2 separate regions of the Homo sapiens genome follow, and region 2 is linked to region 1. Evidence: fine-mapped expression QTL. A gene starts in region 1. The other region holds a variant in brackets. All regions are shown on one strand. Distances are from middle to middle.

Region 1 (9,957 bases):
CCCCATCAAGCTACCAATGACTTTCTTCACAGAATTGGGAAAAACTACTTTAAAGTTCATATGGAACCGAAAAAGAGCCCACATCGCCAAGTCAATCCTAAGACAAAAGAACAAAGCTGGAGGCATCACGCTACCTGACTTCAAACTATACTACAAGGCTACAGTAACCAAAACAGCATGGTACTGGTACCAAAACACAGATATAGATCAATGGAACAGAACAGAGCCCTCAGAAATAACGCTGCATATCTACAACTATCTGATCTTTGACAAACCTGAGAAAAACAAGCAATGGGGAAAAGGATTCCCTATTTAATAAATGGTGCTGGGAAAACTGGCTAGCCATACGTAGAAAGCTGAAACTGGATCCCTTCCTTACATCTTATACACAAATTAATTCAAGATGGATTAAAGACTTAAACATTAGACCTAAAACCATAAAAACCCTAGAAGAAAACCTAGGCATTACCATTCAGGACATAGGCATGGGCAAGGACTTCATGTCTAAAACACCAAAAGCAATGGCAACAAAAGACAAAATTGACAAATGGGATCTAATTAAACTAAACAGCTTCCGCACAGCAAAAGAAACTACCATCAGAGTGAACAGGCAACCTACAAAATGGGAGAAAATTTTTGCAACCTACTCATCTGACAAAGGGCTAATATCCGGAATCTACAATGAACTCAAACAAATTTACAAGAAAAAAACAAACAACCCCATCAAAAAGTGGGCGAAGGACATGAACAGACACTTCTCAAAAGAACACATTTATGCAGCCAAAAAACACATGAAAAAATGCTCACCATCACTGGCCATCAGAGAAATGCAAATCAAAACCACAATGAGATACCATCTCACACCAGTTAGAATGGCAATCATTAAAAAGTCAGGAAACAACAGGTGCTGGAGAGGATGTGGAGAAATAGGAACACTTTTACACTGTTGGTGGGACTGTAAACTAGTTCAACCATTGTGGAAGTCAGTGTGGCGATTCCTCAGGGATCTAGAACTAGAAATACCATTTGACCCAGTCATCCCATTACTGGGTATATACCCAAAGGACTATAAATCATGCTGCTATAAAGACACATGCACACGTATGTTTATTGCGGCATTATTGACAATAGCAAAGACTTGGAACCAACCCAAATGCCCAACAATGATAGACTGGATTAAGAAAATGTGGCACATATACACCATGGAATACTATGCAGCCATAAAAAATGATGAGTTCATGTCCTTTGTAGGGACATGGATGAAATTGCAAATCATCATTCTCAGTAAACTATTGCAAGAACAAAAAACCAAACACCGCATATTCTCACTCATAGGTGGGAATTGAACAATGAGAACACATGGACACAGGAAGGGGAACATCACACTCTGGGGCCTGTTGTGGGGTGGGGGGAGGGGGGAGGGATAGCACTGGGAGATATACCTAATGCTAGATGACGAGTTAGTGGGTGCAGCACACCAGCATGGCACATGTATACATATGTAACTAAACTGCACATTGTGCACATGTACCCTAAAACTTAAAGTATAATAATAAAAATAAAAATAAAAATAAAATAAATAAAAATTGGGGTTATTTATACCACAATCTGATTTAAGTTAAAAAAGAAAATAAATCTATTTATATAGCATCATTTTGGCTATGGCTTTTGTTGATACAGCTAAGGCTTTTGTTGACTTTTTAACAAAATTCAGTTCAATTTTCAGGTATACACTGCACAAATAAAGTGGAAAAATGATTATTACCTAGTGATTGTAAGCTATTTCAACCCATTCTTGCAAAAATTTCATTATGAATTTTCTATTAAAGTATATTTTTATAAAACTATCTTTAAGAGTAAATTTATTGATCAGATAATCACAAACTTTGAATAATTTGCTATTACATCCTAAAATAACAGGTAGAAGAGGACCTTAGAGTCTTCTTGAAATTTCCTTTCTCTGTCAGCCTTTATGCTGATTTTAATTATCCAAGGTCAAGATCTTTTTTATGGATGGGACAACTATGAGAAAAGTATTTATTGAAAGTGGCAAGTTGTCCTACTCTGGAAAATCTACAATTGTCATTTGATCCAAGTGCATTGACTGGACGACTCTTATTTTTATAAGGAAAGAAGCTGTTTTCAATTTAATAGTCATGTTGTTAGTTCTTTCTCAGATGACAAAAATCATAACATAATTTGACTCCTAAAAATTCCACATGAATTAAAGAATAAAGCATATAAAAAGGAAATAATAACAAAATATAACAAAATAAGAAAACATAGGCATCTGTATGATTTTGCAGAGATACGTGTACTTCTAGATATAAAAAAGGAAGAAATCACAAAAGAAAATGTTGCTACATTTGAATACCTAAAGATGACAAGCTTCTGCCAGAAAAGCTATCAGAAGTAAATTTAAAAGACTACAAAAAAGTATTTGTAAGATATATGATAAACATACACAAAGCTTATGAAGATTGCTAACGAATCAATAAAAAATGGAACTTCAATAAAATGGCTAAAGTGTGCCAGTGAAAAATTCTCACACCCTGACATGAGAAGGAAAAATGCAAATAGCTAGTAGATATATATAAAAAATCACTCGATGTCACCAATGATAAAAATACATTTTAAAAATAATAGCTTTTGTCTCTTCTACCAAAATGATAAATATCTGAAGTATTATAATCTAGGGTGATGTGAAATAAATACTCATAAACTGCTGGTAACAATTGCTACAAATTTTTTGGAAGGAATTTGTACACTATTCGTCAAAAACTTTAAAAATACACATATCATGTGATCCAATGTTTTCACTTCTAGAAAGTTATCATAAAATATTTAAAGATGCACACAGATTATGTTCCAAGGGCATTCTTTCCAGAATTATTAATAACACTGAATCCTTAAACAATGCCTAATATCTAATAGTAAATTACATGTATCTAAAGAGTAGAAAATATTTTACAATTATTAAAGTTGTGTTGTTGGAGACTTTAATGACTTGAGAAAATATTTATGTTATTAAGAATAAAAATAAAAGCAGGTTACAAATTATTATTCCAGTTTTGCAGTACACACAGAGTTAAAAAAAAAAAAGCAAGGAAATTCCTCAACATGTTAATACCATTAACAATGTTATCTCTGGGTGGTAGGATCTCTAGTTATTTTTATATTCTTCCTGATACTTTTCAATATTTTCCAAAATGTTTACAAATAACATATATTGTTATAATCAGAATATAGGTGTGATACACAAATCTATATGTGTATACATACACACAAACACACATATACAGAGACTTTCATGTGGAAATTTTGTTAAAAGGATATTAGAGATAATGCCACAAACAAATGTGCCACAGGCCAACTTATAATGAGTGGGCCACGTGGATTTGTCCAGATATTCAATAATCAGAAATTTGGATGCTTCTTTTGAAAAACACAATAACTCACCCATTTACAGAATCTGAGATCAAGAAGGGATCTTGAGATCCTTGCCACTGAGGAAGGCCTTATGTCCATCTTGTTCACCATCACCTAGTTCAGTATGTTTTTGAATGAAAGAAAAAACGAAGAGCACCTCAATCATCGCACAGATGGAGAAACTGTTTCCTCCAGAAAACACAGGGCTTAATGCCCAATGTTACACATCTCCACAAAATAACACCAATAGCAGCAATAATTATGGCTACTACTACCAACACATGTCACCTACTGTGTGCCAGGCACTCTTCCAAGTGCTTTATGTACATCAACTTACTTAATCCTCATAATAATCCTACGTGGTGGGTATTATTTTCATTAAATAGGTGAGAAAACTGAGTCACACACCACGTCTACACCTCAGTCCTCTTTCTTCCCCGCCATTTCATGCACACCCTAACTAGAAATTCGATCTGACGCTAGCCAGCATGGATCCTTACAAGGGATGTTCCGAGGGCACATCTGCGTGTTTGTGTGCAATGAGGAAAGTGGCGAGCTTTTTAAAGACCCACCGCCAGAAAACAATGTCCTGATGTCCTGTATTTACTCTGGCTTCATCCCGGGAGCGCCCCTCCCAGTGGGCCACGGGGACCTGAGACAGGCTACTCCACGGGGTCCCCAGCCTCTCTCGCCCTCTAGCGCGAGGCGAGCGCCGCGCAGCCCCTGGGGACCCGCCGGGCTGGGCCGCAGCCCCCGCCCGCGCCACCTGCTCCCCAGCTCCAGCGTCCCCGCCCCGCGTCCCGCCCCCGCGCCGCGCCCGCGCCCCGCGGTCCCTCCCTCCGGCGTGACGGGAGCATCGGCGCTGGCTGCCCGGGCCGCGAGCGCAGCAGAGCTGTCAGCGGGCGGACGGGCAGCGGGTGACGGAGCGGCGAGACGAGCGCACAGCAGTCGCGGCCCGGGAGCCGGAGCTGCCGCCGCACCCCGGGAAGGCTGCCTTGCCGCCGGCCCGCCGACCGCGGCCGGACGAAGATGCTGTTCCGCGCCCGGGGGCCGGTACGGGGCAGGGGCTGGGGGCGGCCGGCGGAGGCTCCCCGCCGCGGGCGCTCGCCGCCCTGGAGCCCCGCCTGGATTTGCTGCTGGGCGCTCGCCGGCTGCCAGGCGGCCTGGGCTGGGGACCTGCCCTCCTCCTCCAGCCGCCCGCTTCCTCCTTGCCAGGAGGTGAGCAGCACCTGGTCCTCTACCTGGAGTTTGCTGGGGGAGGGCGCGGAAGATGAAGGCTGAGAGCGGTTCCTGTTTATTTCTGTTTGCCATCCCCTTTTCCTTTGCTTGGAGAACAGGGGCTTTCGTTTGCTTCGAGGGGTGAAGTTGCCCGCCCTGGTAGCTGGCCCGGAGAGGGTGTGTGGCTTCGCTGTCTCTCGGGGGATGCTTTTCTGTCCGCGCTTGTGTCTTTTGGGGGCTCTGCAGGACTTTGCGGCGTCCTTTTTGGACAGCCAGGTTTGAGGACCTGGGGTCGAGGGAAAGATTTCAGGAAGGGGAGGAGACTGGGGAAGCCCCACCAGTGGGATTTGAAGAACCATCTCATCACAGCTTTTCCAGAGAGCCAGACACAGACACCAGAGGATTTCCCGCTCCTCCTCCCCCTGTCTCCACTCCCCTGTCTCTGCAAACGCCTTCGTCCTACTCCCCTGCCCTCAGCTTCCTGATTAAGGCCCTGTGGGTTTGCTAAGCCAATGTATGGTGTCACTTAGCATCCTTCTGACAAAATGTGGATTTGAATTTGGGGGGGAAAAAAAAGGAGTATGTACTTGGTAGAGAAGATGCAGGTTGATGATGGAGAAAATTAGAAAAGACAGTGAATATGCTTCTTTTGGGAGGTGCTTTATCACCTGGCTGAAGTATTGCCGCGGTGTATTTTATAGCTTGTAATCATTGTTGTTTTACAGCCAAAAAGGATAAACTATGGGAGATGAGATTTTTATCTGGCTTTTAGAAGAACGAGACAGTGTGCCAAAAATTTACAGGGGGTGTCATTGGTTCTTGTATTGGGTGTTTATCTTTCCATTTAGTGTTCAGAAAGTGCATCCTCTTAATGAAAATCAATGAGGGGAAGGAAGCAACATTTCTGACCTACTTTGATTGTGTTGGGAGGATATATGGAATAGATACTGTTTTTAGGAAGATTGTTAGGAATCAGGGCGATGGGTCGTTTTAATTAATGTAGCAAAAATAGGTTAGCCAATAGCCCCTCTGGGAAGAAAGGCCAGACCCTCTTGTTTGTGTATGTTGCTCTAACTTCTGAATTTTACCGAGACTTGAATTACAGAGTATCTGTGTTCTACACATCATCCATCATCTATGGATTTTCGTCTTTCTCTCCTACAGTACAGGTCCCAGGACAGACTGAAATGAAAGAGAATCGGATCAAAGGCTTGTGTGCGAACACACAGCAATGTTGTAATTGGGGAAATCAGGGCAAGAGCTCAACAAACAGCTGTGTTTAATTTTAGGGCTTTTTAGTATAATGAGCTTAATCTATATTCTACAACTTTACATATCACCTGGGAATAATCCATTATTCCAGGTTTCCACAGAAAGCTGCTTCTTGGACATCTCAGATTGAACAGTTGTGACAAGATAAACTTTATCCTCCAGCCCCCAACTTCTAATATGCAGAATATATTTTTCTAAACTGAAAAGTCTTAAGCTTCTGATAACATCGATTCTTAGTAATGAAAATCTGCTTGAAGTAGGCGAAGGTCAGGGTCAATAGAAGTGATGCCTTTGGTCTCTACAACTAGACTAATCTTTTAGATGAACACATGTCCTACACATGTATACCTAGAAAGAAGAGTCTGCAACCTAAAACAAAGATTGAAAGGAGGGGCAGAGAGATGACAGAAGGTTCAGGAAGGCTGGGTTCACTTGATCACAGGTCCTTACTGCATTGGCTTTAGAAATTGCATGTGACTCATCCGTTGAGATCTGAAATTTACATTTTCCTTCTGAAAAATGAGAATAAATAAAATATATAGGAGGACGCTATTGAGCCTGCCTTTGGCTGTATGTTTTTATAAATGTTAATGCACAGATCCATTTATGTTCTTCCTGATGACTGACAAGTAAGAGGAACTAATGGGAGTTAGAAGTTCTTGGAAGTAGAAGAGGCCTAGTGACCTCCCAGGGGTTGAATCTGTTTGATATCTGGTCTAACCAGTGGAGCTAATTTACAGAATTGGTCATTGTTTTTCTCTGACATTGTTTTTAAGAGGAAAGTGGGGAGGGCAAGTTATTTTCAGACTTTGAAGGTAAAGGAATGTTTGTGCTGGGAGTGGGGAAAGGGTATCCTCTTGAGCTCAGCCCTTTCCTCTGAATACAGTTATGGGATTGTGGGCTAAACGCCTGTGAATAAAGACACAGTTAAAGTAACTACTCTGTGTTCACTCCTGCTCGTTTATCATTTTCCACTTTTTGTTAACATTAAAGGAGGCAAATGCCACAAAGGACAGACTATGCAGTGGGGAACAGAGTGAGGGCAGTTAAAGTGAGGAATTTTCAGGCTGAGAGCTAAAACCAACTCTCAATGTGAGAGAATGTTGAGGAGTATAGAAAAAGCTATAGGCCATTTTGAACCTCATTTCCCCCCAGTAGTTTGTGTCACCCTCATTTATTAATATTTTTGTAGAAGTAGTCATGTTTAACAAAGTTACATAAACTCTGATTTTCCTGCCTGGTTTTAGAGGAAAGCAACTAAAGGAAGACAAATGCAGAGAACTGGCCTGGGAGTCATCCAGTTATAATTGCCTGAGTTCAGAAAAAAGGCCCTTCAAAAACTAGGTTATGGGTAAAAGTTACATTTAGATTTTTGCAGAGGAATGGACTCTGGGGTGAAACTCATAAAATACATATTCCTTTGTCAAAGTCTTTGGATTATGAAGTCGAAAGGGGGAGAAAAGTTATTGTGTTGGAATGTTCAGCTGGTGATCAGATCAGCAGTGTGGAAGCACACGCACAAACAGGAAGCGATCATTTGGGAGACAGAAATAAAAGGAAAGTCAAAGTGCTGGCAGATGAAGCACAAGAATAGGATGTGACTTTGGAAAATGGTATTCAAAGGAAATAAATGAGGCCTGGACATCAGAAAGTATAGAATTCCTCAGGTTTTTGTATGGGGTGAACTTATAAAAGGTAAATCTTCTTTGGGTTTCTTGGCCTGTGTTTCACTTATAAAATGTTATTAATGAAACATGACCAATTATTTGTATTATGAGGATGAAATGAGATTAATATAAGATAAAGGAGAAATATAAATATGAGGGCTGATTATTGCTAGATTAGTAGAGCTAGATCCTGATATTTTGGGAAGAGTCTACAGTGAGACTCCAGAGGTTCCTAGGATAGGCCCATCCAAGACTTGGCATGACATTTTTGACTCAGTGAATAATAGGACTTAATGGGGCTGCCAGAGCAAAAAAATATAAAGGCCAACAGATAATTCAGAGTTGCAGTAAGGTATCAGAAGATAGAAAAGTACATGAGAGTAAAAAGAACAGAACTAATTGGATTATGTCTGTATTATTTACATTTGGTAAATTAAATCACAAAATAGCTGATTCTTAGTTCACTGCTGTAAAATCTTGCATAATGCAATTCTGCTGTTCTCCCTGACTACTGAATGATGAGTTTTGCTAACAGTTTTTGTTCCACATTCAGTTTATACCATGTGCTAGACAAAATGTCAGATATGAAATTAGTAATTTAAAGAATATAATTTAATTGGATAAGGATGAGACAGATATGTAAACAAACATTGCAGTTAAGTGATTTGAAGCCATGAAAGAAGCAATGGGCCATCATATCTACTGAGGGGGGTGGGATCAGAAAAGGCCCTATGGAGGAAGTGAATGAGACTTAATTGATAAGTAGGAATTTGCCAAGCAGACAAGGGTCAGATGTGAGTGTAGGCTAGTTTGGGGGAAAGACATTTCAGGTGAAGAGCACAGATTGAAAAAGGGCAGAAACATGAAACAGCATTGTATTGTAATTGGTTCTAACTGAAGTACAGCATGCAATGAGAAGCTTAATGAGAGATGAATCTGACAGGCAGGCAGGAGCCTATCATAAGGGACCTTATATCACACTAAGAAGCTGGTCTTCATTTGGTAGGCAATAGGATGCAGTAGTAGGACTTCAAAAAGAGGAGTAGTATGCTTTAGATAGAATTGGCAGTGAGTGGATGCAGAGGGTGAGAGAATGAAATGTTCTAACTTGATTAGAGGATGGTGCCTCTTAACCTCCCTGAGAAGAAATGTGAAGAAGATGGGATAAGGAGCTTGTTCTGTCTGGAAGGAGTGACTTTATGTAGAGCTGTTGAGTAGGCAGTTAGGTATTATTAGGCCCTGTTCCTCAGGGGCATGGTGTGGGCTGGTGTGGTGACCTGGGAATAACTTGAATGGAAGACATTGTTGAAATGACTGGATTGGTTGAGATCATGCAGGGAGTGAGAACAAAGTGCTGAAGATAGGACTTGGGTTTTACCTACATGAAAGGGGACAGAAACCGAGGAGTTCACAAAGGAGACATGTAGCAATGGCTGGTAAAGAAGAAATGTGAGTGTGGAGTTGTGGGAAAAAGAAAAGCCTTTGAAGAAGATAGGGCTCATTGTGTGTCAGTTGCCCGATGAAATCCAAATAAGATGATGACTGAAGAGAGAAGATTGAATTCTGTGATTAGGTCACTGGTGCTCAGCACCAGAGTGTTTCCTATGGGATGGTGGAGATGGGTTGAGTGTTAACTGGGAGGTGAGATGGTGGTGATGGAGTGGAATTGTGTTATAGAGCCTTCCTAGATTTGGTAAGCTACTGGGTCTTCAAAATCCATGTAAACCACAAGACCTGTAATGGTCATGTTTTTTGTTTCAGAACTTGATGGGCACAGCTGAGAAACATCCTTTCTGTAGGAAGTCCCTGAAGGCCATGGGCTATGGGTGAAGCTGTCAAAGGTTCTACAGTCACACTGTTATTGAAGGAGTTAGGACTCAGCCTCTGTTTTCAAGCAGTTAACGTAACTAATCTTTCCTGTTAATGCCTGTGGAGGTGAATTTTCCATTTCCAGTTCTTATGCTTAGAATCATTTCTCATGTTTTAGGCAAATGCGAGCAAGTATTCACACCATCAATATTTACAATGTAAAACCAAGAGTTGACAGATCTGTGAAGTGTCATATTTTAGCACAAGGGATGGAAATAGCAGAGCATAGTATAGAGTGGCACGTTTTCCTATCATAGTGTCTTCTCCAGCAGAGTCTTGCATCTTATAATAATTCTTTATTGTCAGAAAACACTAGCCACATTTTGGTTGCTTTTCTTTTCTCTTGAAGAAACCACAGATTATTCTCTTTCCTTTTTGCCTTTCATCATGTGTGTTCTATGTAGTATTTCAATATTCAATATGTATATATACATATATTTATCATGTACTTATATAGCAGGTATTGACAATGAATGGATGAACAAAACATAGGCCCCTGCTC
Region 2 (9,957 bases), 24 kb after region 1:
TCACATTGATTTATTTGCGTATGTTGAATTATCCTTGCATCCCAGGGATAAATCTCACTTGGTCATGATGAATGATCCTTCTAATGTGTTGTTGAATTCATTTTGCTAGTATTTTGTTGAGGATTTTTACATCAGTATTCGTCAGAGATATTGGCCTGTAGTTTTTTTTATTATGTGTCTTTGTCTGGTTTTGGTATCAGGGTAATATTAGCCTTGTAGAATGAGTTTGGAAGTATTCTCTCCTCTTGGGTTTTCAGAATAGCTTGAGTTGGACCGAGATTAGTTCTTCTTGAAATGTTTGGTAGGATTCAGCAGTGAAGCCATTGGGTCCCAGGCTTTTCTTTACTGGGAGACTTTTTATTGTGGCTTTGATTTCATTGGTATTGGTCTGTTCAGGTTTTGGACTTCTTCCTGGTTTAGTCTCGGTAGGTTGTATGAGTCTAGGAATTAGTCCACTTCTTTTAGGTTTTCCAGTTGGTTGGCGTATAGTTACTCATAGTAGCCTCTAATGATCCTTTGCATTTCTGCAGTATCAGTTGTAATGTCTTCTTTTTCATTTCTGATTTTATTTATTTGTATCTTCTTTTTTTCTTAGTCTAGCTAAAGTTTTGTCAATTTTGTTTAACTTTTCAAAAAACTAACTTTTTGTTTCATTGATCGTTTGTATTTTCTTCATTTCATTTATTTCTGTGATTTTTATTATTTTCTATTAATTTTGGGTTTGGTTTGCTCTTGCTTTTCTGGTTCATTAAGATACATCATTAGATTGTTTATTTAAAGTTTTTTTTCTTTTTTGATGTAGACACTTATAGCTATAAACTTCCCTCTTAATACTGCTTTTGTTGTATCCCATAAGTTTTGGTATGTTGTGTTTCCATTACCATTTGTTTCAAGGAATTTTTCAATTTTCTTCTCAATTTCTTCATTGACCCACTGGTCATTCAGGAGCATATTGTTTAATTTTCATGTATTTGTATAGTTTCCAAAATTGCTCTTATTATTAATTTCTAGTTTTATTCCACTGTGGCCAGAGAAGCTGCTTGATATTGTTTCAGTCTTTTGAATGTATTAAGACTTATTTTGTGACCTAACATGTGCATTTCTTTAATCACTCATGAAGGTCAATATTTTTCGTGTCACTTAGCTTTTTGTATTTCACTTTTTGTGAGATTTCCTATTTAGGTGTTTGCATCGTTATGTATACAAGCTTTTAGTATAATAAGGATAATATATATTTCCCTAGACTTTTTCTTATCTGTGTGTTTTGAGATATGTAATATCCAGAGAAAGCAATTATTTAGTCCCTAAAAAGGTATATGGAATTACCTCCCTTAACATATCAAACTGTAATACATCTTAATTTCCAAAAAGAATGTTTGGTACATAATACCTTATTAAATCATTACAATATATGAAGGCTTTCAGGTGTTTGAGAAAAATATGGAAGCAGCTACAAAGTGACCAAGAATTCTTGCACTTGGATTGGTATTCTTGGTTCTAAGAGTGTGTTTTAGATATTTCATGACTATTCATTCTCTGTTACTTCTTTTTCAGTTGCCATTCATATGTTTATTAGCTCATCTAGCATGTATCTCACAGGAAAAAATTATAGGATAGTCTATGATGATAGTACAGATGGGTTAAGTGCTGTGATGGAGTCATTCACAGGGCTGTATAGAAGCACAGAGAAGAGGCAACTAAATCAGACTAAAGAAACTCTGGTGTCAGAGCAAGTGATGTTTCAGCTGAGTTTGGAAGGATTTATAGTAGTGCTTTACAGGATGCACAGAGACCACCACATCTCAGTCAAAGAAAATAACATGTATAACATCAAAGAGGAATTAAATAATATTATAATTTCAAGGGCCAACTTGAAGGGCACGTGGGTGGTGGTGGCAGAAGTGTCAGAGACTGAAGGTCTTGCGAGGCAAGCTATGAAGCGCTATTAACATCAAATTAGAAAGATTATTCTGTTGGCAAATGAAGGAACATAAAAGGGAAATCACATTGGACGCAGGAAGATCAGTTAGGAGACTCTTGCCTCTCTCACGGGGAGAAAATAACTAACAGAACTAAACACATGACAGTATGAATGGAGAGGGAGAGAATAGATGGATTTTACAGCTATTAAAGACATCTTATTTTCAGGAGTCTGCAACCGAGTGATACATTTCAGTCTACCATGACTTATAAGTTTTTGGTCTGAGTAGATGCTGCTGTCTTTTATTGAGATAAAAAAATTGAGAGAAGGAAAAGGAGGAGGTGGTGGTGGGGGCGGGAAATAGGATGAGTTCAGCATTGGACATCCTGAGTTTATAGTACCCTGGGCACACACAAACAGTGCTCTCCTGAAGACAGGTGGATGTACAGGAGTGCAGCTGAGAGACAACTTGGGAGCCATGAGTACATAAGAGGTAATTGAAGCCATTGATGTTGATGAGGTCACTTAGGCTCTGAGCATATAGCAAGAGCACTGTGTTGAGGAGAGTGCTTAGGGAAACAACAGCATTTAAGAAGCAAGCAGAGTGAGAAGCATTTGAGGATGAAACTGAGAAGGTACAGCCAGTAGAGAAGGATTAGCATTAGCACAGAAGCAGACTGGAGGTTGATGGGAAGGAGACCCGTAAATCTGGAGTATGATATAGGCAGGGTGATTTTTAATATTCAGGGTGTTTTCTTATTTTAATTTTTCAACTTTTAGATTGGGGTACATTTGTACGTTTGTTATCTGGGCATATTGTATGATGCTGAGGTTTGGGATATGAATGATCCCATCACCCAGGTACTGACCATAGTACCCAACAGTTTTTCAACCCTTGCCCCTGCTTTTCCCTTTCCTTTCTAATAGTCTGTAGTGTCTATTGTTGCCATCTTTAATTCCATGAGTACCCAATGTTTAGCTGCCATTTATAAGTAAGAACATACGGTATTTGGTTTTCTGTTCCAGTGTTACTTTGCTTAGGAAAATAGCCTCCAGCTACATCCATGTTTATGCAAAATACATGATTTTGTTGTTTTTTATGGCTCTATAGTATTCCATGGGGTATATGTACCACATTTTCTTTATCTAATCCACCAATGATGGTCACCTAGCTTGCTTCCATGACTTTGCTATTGTGAATAGTTCAGCAAACCCTTTTTAAAGATAGGGTCTCCTTGTCACTCAGGCTGGAGTGCAGTGGTACAATAACAGCTCACATAGTTTTGACCTCCCAGAGCTCCAGTGATCCTCCAACCTCAGCCTCCCGAGTAGTTGGGACTACAGGCACATGCTTCCATGCCTTGCTAATTTTTGTATTATTATTATTATTTTGTATAGACAGGGTTTCACCCTGTTGCCCAGGCTGGTCTTGAACTCCTGGTCTCAAGTAATCATCCCACCTCAGCCTCCCAAAGTACTGGGATTGCAGGTGTGAGGCACCATGCTTGGCCTACAGTGAGACATTTGAATTGTCATATCATTATTGACAAAATGCATAGTATATGATGAATGACGGAATATTAGGCAGATTCCTGGCTATTTGAACAAATGTATACTAAGATTATTAATGTATGTGATGCTAAACTGAAAGAACATCTCCAATGCAATACTTTTGTGCTTAATATCTAATTTCTGTCCTTTTACTGTTTTACTATTACCATTTTAAATAATACTTGGGTTTTGAGACGGCATAACCAAATTTTGTAAAGTCAGAAAGCTGAGAAGGATTCCTAATGAGTTGGAAAACAGAATTGGGATTCAAAATGATTTCAAAAGGCTAGAATAATGGGCAATCCAACATAATTGATTTAAATGTAGACTGTTCTTTTCTGGTTCTGAAAATCAGATGTTCAAGCATAGAATGGGAAAATTTTACTTAAAAGTACTTCTGAAGCCATAGCTGTCATATGGCTGCAAAAGCAATGATGGAGGGTCTTGAGTTCTGTTTATATGAGAAGAATGCCTTGTTTGTGGAAGGTAGACATTTATATTAGGTCATTAGTTCAACTTAGATGCAATATTTGAAGAGGGATATTGACAAAGGGTGACATTGGCTTGAGATGTGAATTAGGAAGATTAGTTATTTGGAAAGTACGTCACGGGAAACTAACCAAAGGAAATGGGGTTGTTTAGCTTAGAGTAGACTTGAGGGGGCCATGACATGAGCTTCAAATATATTAAGTGCAGTCATAATGCTATAATTGCTATAATGCTCATTTAGAGGACAAGATTTGGATTAGCGGGTAGTAGACAAAAGGATGCAGAATTTAGTTCATCTTAGAAGGTGTTTTACATATGCAGAAGCCATGAGCTTTGTCTTTATACTCTGAAAATTGCAGAGCTGCTTCTTTGGATGGATTGCAAACCTAGGTTCCATGTGTAGGAGCCATGAGTTCTAATTTACTGAACTTTGACAATTTCACTATGCTGGATTTAAGGGGCAGTTCAATGACTGCTCAGGGGTATATCCATACCTACTGTAACTGGTGAGAAGATAAATATTTGACCTTGATGCATTAGTCGTAGCTAGCACACAATTTTTTTTTTTTTTTTTTGAGACGGAGTTTCACTCTTTTTTGTCCAGGCTGGAGTGTAGTGGTGCTATCTTGGCTCACTGGAACCTCTGCCTCCCTGCTTCAAGCTTCAAACAATTCTGCCTCAGCCTCCTGAGTAGCTGGGATTACAGGCACACGCCACCATGTCCGGCTAATTTTGTATTTTTAGTAGAGACGGGGTTTCACCATGTTGGCCAGGTTGGTCTCGAATTCCTGACCTTAGGTGATCCAGCCGCCTTGGCCTCCCAAAGTGCTTGGATTACAGTCGTGAGCCACTGCGCCTGGCCACACACATTCTTATTCTGTCTTACTTAGCACTTTATTCTAAGAATGCTACAGTGTAAAAACACAGTGCCCTTTGGTGTTTAACCCTACCTCCTAACGTTAAGAGCAGAAAGAACTGACCCTTGAAAATGTAATGCAGACTTCTACTTGATAATTCTTAGGCATATAAATAATGCATAGCAGGAAATAACTTGAACCAAAATAATAATTGATGCTTAAACATATCTGAGCCTGTTATGCTAGGAAAGTGCTTCCCTATCTAAAGAGCAGATAAATATTAAGATCATTTACTTGAGGTTTTTTTTTAATGATCTCATTTTTTTCTACATTTGTCACCTTTTAAAGTTAAAAGCAATATATGCATTCCAGAAAAATGCAGCAATAAAAACACCCATAATCTCACTAAATAAGCATGCCACTTTTAACATCTTAGTATTTGTAATATGAATAATAAATAATAACAATAGCCAGGTAAAATTTTAAGTGCATTTTTATTTATTAACTCACTCATCTCCCTAACTCTAATTGGTAAGCTTGAACCGCCGCATCTTCTCCCCATGTTTAAGTTACTTGTGAATCCAAGCTGCTACACCAGGGCCCATACTTTTCACCATCAGACTATACTGCCTCTATTACATATATCAAAAGTCCTTTGCATGTATTTCATTATCAGTGTACACATATGGTTACAAAATGGTAATATTATGTACATATAGTTTGGTAATGTTTTTTGGCATTTAAAAATATGACATGAACTTACTCCCCTATTTTGATTCCTCAAGAATTTTATTAAGTACTTGATATGTCTCTGACTTTGTTCCCTGAATAACCAGTTTTTACAAATAGTGTTTTGAACAATCCATAATTCATCCTTTTTCTGTTGGTCTGTTTTCTATACCATCTATTGTGTATGTGGATATATAAAAATTTATAAGCTATTGTTTTATATATAATATGTGCTATATTATATATATGCACATTTATTCAATTTCTTTTGAGCTATTTTCTACACTATTGATTTTTTT[TG/G]TACAGATTGCAGAGTTTTATAATATAGTTTTATATGGTGGCACTTAATTTTCTTTCATTCTCAGCTGTTCTCACTTATTTAGTCTTTCAGTTCAACTTCAGAATAATTTTGAAAAGTTAAAAATTTTTTTTGGATTCTCTTAAGTTCGCCCATTTATTTGGAAAAAATGTCATATTTTTAGTATTATCTTCACATTTAAAGACATACAGTCTGTTTTAGCATTTATTGAGGCATTCTGTATTTCTCACTAGCACAATCTTTGTATTCTGAACTATTTTATGTTACTATTTTCCATGACATTTTTCTGCCAACCACTTTACCTTTTAATTGATTTTTCCCTGATATGTTGAAAAGCCACTGGTTTTTAGAAATTAATTGTGTATCTAGTTTCTTACAGGGCTGTCTTATTAATTCTAACGTTTTGTCAGTTAATTATCTTCGATTTTTTTGATAACAAGTTCCATTTATTGAGTAGTTAATGTGTGAAACACTTTTCTCACAGAAGTCCATGCCTCTGCTTTCAGAGATGAAGAAACTGAAGCTCAAAGGCAATTAATAACTTACAAAAGATGACAAAGCTAGTGAGCCATAAAGCTGGGATAGATTTGTCTCCAGAGAGCTCACTTTCCACTGAACTCCACTACCTCCCACTCTGCCTACACAGAACTGATCTATTATGCTTACAGCTCTCCATGACTGATTCTTAGAGGCTATTGATCGAATCTTATTAGGTGTACCAGGCAGCTATTTACAGTTTTTCCCAGTAGCCAATCATTTTCACATGATTTCTTTTTTTCAAGGTAGAGATCCTTTTCTCATGTGTTTCAGAAATCTTTCGTCTCCTCCAAGGTAGATGTTAATTCCACATTTTCACAAGGAAAGCTTTATGTACTGCTGTGTTTTACTCACACACAAGGTGTGTAGGTAGCCACTGGTCCTCCTGTCTTGATAGCATGTCTGTGCAGAGTTCCTAGTCCAGTTTCTGTTGTCTGAGAAACTTCCTTTTTATGCTATGCTGATGAACTTTGAGGATCTCATTCTGTCTATTAGATTCTCGATTAGGAGAATGTTTTAAAGAAACAGAGCTGTCTGTGGTTCTTCTATGTGAAGAAGCACATGATAGGTACTGGACCTAGGGCATTTTCTGCCTCTGTTTTTATCTGTACATTTCTGGGAGTGAAGGATGTACGTGAAGAGGTGAGAGTGAGATTTGTTAGTCTGATGTCATCTTAAACCAGAAATCTGTAAAACTTCAAAAACAGATGGCCTTTTTCTGTTGTTGGAAAACTATATTCCAAAGAAAATTCAGAATAAAAATTGATGGACAAATTGATGTGTAATTCTGTCATTTTACATCTTTTTGTTTTTGTTCTCTTCCTTACACCTCTTTCTTTTAAGACTTATCAGTTAATATGGCTCAGGCATTGCTGTAAGTGTTTTACAGATATTAGCCCACTTAATAGCAATCATTTGTTATTAGTTCATTCATCATTCATAAGCAAATGATGCTGCTTTAAAGTGATATTCAGACATTTTATATAGAAGTTAAATCATTGCCTCAATCTTTAAACAAATCTTTATGGAAGCTTAATTGAAGTGCACTCAGATACATATATTTGAAGTATATAAATTGATCAGTTTTGACATATGTAAGCACTCATGAAACTATTGTCATAATCAAGATAGTCATTTTCAACATCCCCAAAAGTTTCCTGTTTCTCTTTGTAATCTAACCCTTCCTCCACTCTGTCCCTAGGCAGCCACTGATCTGCTGTCACTACAGATTCAGTTGCATTTTATAGAATTTTAGATAAGTGGAATTGTATGGCATGTACTCTTTTTTGGGTGGGGGGCTGTCTTCTTTCACTTAGCATAATGATTTTTGAGGTTTATTCACATTGTGGTGTGTATCAAGTTTGTTCCTTTCTGCTGAGTAGTAGTCTACTATATGGCTATACACAATTTGTTATTTAATATACCTATTTTTAACATAATATAGTTGTAATCATAGCACTTGATATTCTTAAGCTCCAATAAGATAATGTAATCTATGATCATTAAATACTAACTAGTGAGTACTCCAGTAAGTTCTTTATAAAATTTAGCCGCAGCAGTCTAAACATGTAAGTGTAAGTACTAAAGGATTTTTGGCATTCTGAGATATTCCTGTAGGTGATTCTTTGTTTCATTCAGTATTTAACGCTGTTCTGATAAATCTTGATTTTTGGAGCTAACCATTCAGTTAGTCTATTAGATGTGCCTGCTGTTAGAACTATTAATATTTTCACTTACTTGCCTGTCTGTAGATCATTTAACTATCAATTAATGAATGCATGTCTCTGGGAGTGCAGGTGAGAAATGTGGATCTCATGCCACTCATTCAGAGGCTAAAATGAGGACTTTGTTTAGTTCATGGTAATGAGCATTGACATACTGTATGGAAATGAAAACAGTCTTTGTGTGTGTTCAGTTGGATGAACAATTAAATATATTCATTCCTAATTGAAATTATGTTTCTATTGTTAAAGAAAAACTGAGAGGAGTTAAATTTAACATTTGAGCAAGAAAAAAGTTCTAGAACCAGACAGCATTCCTGATGAAGGTGGTGATATGGTTTTTCTGTGTCCCCACCCAAATCCCATCTTGAATTGTAGCTCCCATAATTCCCACATGTTGTGGGAGGGACCAGGTGGGAGATAATTGAATCATGGGGGTGGTTTCCCCATACTGTTCTCGTGGTAGTGAATAAGTCTCATGCGATCTGATGGTTTTATAAGGGGAAACCCCTTTCACTTGACTCTCATTCTCTCTTGTCTGCCACCATGTAAAATGTGCCTTTCATCTTCCACCATGATTGTGAGGCCTCCCCAGCCATGTGGAACTGTGAGTCCATTAAACCTCTTTTTCTTTATAAATTACCCAGTCTTGGGTATGTCTTCATCAACACCATGGGGTAACAGAGTACCCCCACCTACAAACCTGGTGGACTATATAACGAGAAAATAAGAAATGACATACAGAGAGTACTTGATTGGTACAGCTGGCATGTACCTTCTTTGGGTGTAATCTGGCAGCTTTCAGCCTCTGGTTGTCTGCAGCTACTGTGATTTGAGACTCAGCTACTTGTTATAAGGGTTTACTTTTCATGAAATTACAGTCTGTTTACACAAGTTAGGTTATAGTTCATAATGTATGGAGAAACCATTATGCCAAACTCAAAATATGTACGGTGGCAGCTTTAGGCCAAACTTAATTCAGTTTAATGCCATAAATCACAAATCCATCAAGATAGCTAGGTTTAGTTGTATTTTTTCTTTTTCTTTCTTTCTTTTTTTTTCTTTTGGTGGGAGCTGATGAGAATTCTGTTGACTAACATGTTTGCATTTAGAACAAGATAAGCATTCTTTTAGACTAATAGTGTTTTTGCAAGTTTTGAGGACGCTTATGTTTTTCTTATATTGTTCCAGGAAGAGAAAAGGTATTGGTATGTACTGTGACTGACTGACATGTCCCATTTAGGCTTATCTCGTCTTAGAATCCATCTTTTGTAGCAGTAGGTGATCACCCTAACAGGACAGGGAGAATAAATGTGACTTACTTGGCATCATAGTAGTGAGTTCTGCACTCTCTATGACAGAGGCAGGCTAATCCTTAACCTGAAATTTTCAGCTATGGCTTTGTTTTCCTGATCTCTTCAAAATCAGATTGTTTACCTTTATTTCCTCAATTCTCTTTCCAATTCACTAGAGTCAGGCTTTTATCCCACTTATTTTCCTGAATCTCTTGTCATGGTTAGTAATCATCTAATTATTAGTGGTGTCTTTAATCCTCATCCTATTCCATCTGAGGCATTTGACTCTACTTCCAGGCTTCTGCTTTCTTATACTGTAATGTTGTGTCACTCATTGTTATGTCCTTATTTCTTTAGCTACTCTTCTATGACCTCTTTGTAAATCTCGATTGCCCCAGGTTTTTGCTTTTTGTCTTTTTGCATTGTAGATATCCTGTCTGAGTGATCTTATCCATATTTCTTTCATTATTTTTCTGTAAACATGCTTATTATAAACCATTTGAATAATTTGAACAAGCAAGAATGAAAATCACCTGCC

What was found.
Region 2: its variant is fine-mapped to the expression of ELAPOR2 in whole blood (TOPMed, PIP above 0.99). The same link has a PIP of 0.9 or more in blood mononuclear cells.

The regions. Positions count from the first base shown.
Region 1 is chr7:87,054,015-87,063,971 of GRCh38, reverse strand. It overlaps ELAPOR2 (endosome-lysosome associated apoptosis and autophagy regulator family member 2), which reads left to right and starts at 4,318. Exons shown (of 22, transcript NM_001142749.3): 1 at 4,318-4,647. The coding sequence starts at 4,459. RefSeq lists silencers at 4,041-4,430, 4,521-4,590 and an enhancer at 4,856-5,356.
Region 2 is chr7:87,029,667-87,039,623 of GRCh38, reverse strand. All of the region lies in intron 1 of ELAPOR2 (endosome-lysosome associated apoptosis and autophagy regulator family member 2), which reads left to right. Among named protein-coding and RNA genes, the nearest start is that of ELAPOR2, 25 kb to the left of the region's middle. The variant TG/G (reference allele first, on the strand shown) is at 5,847.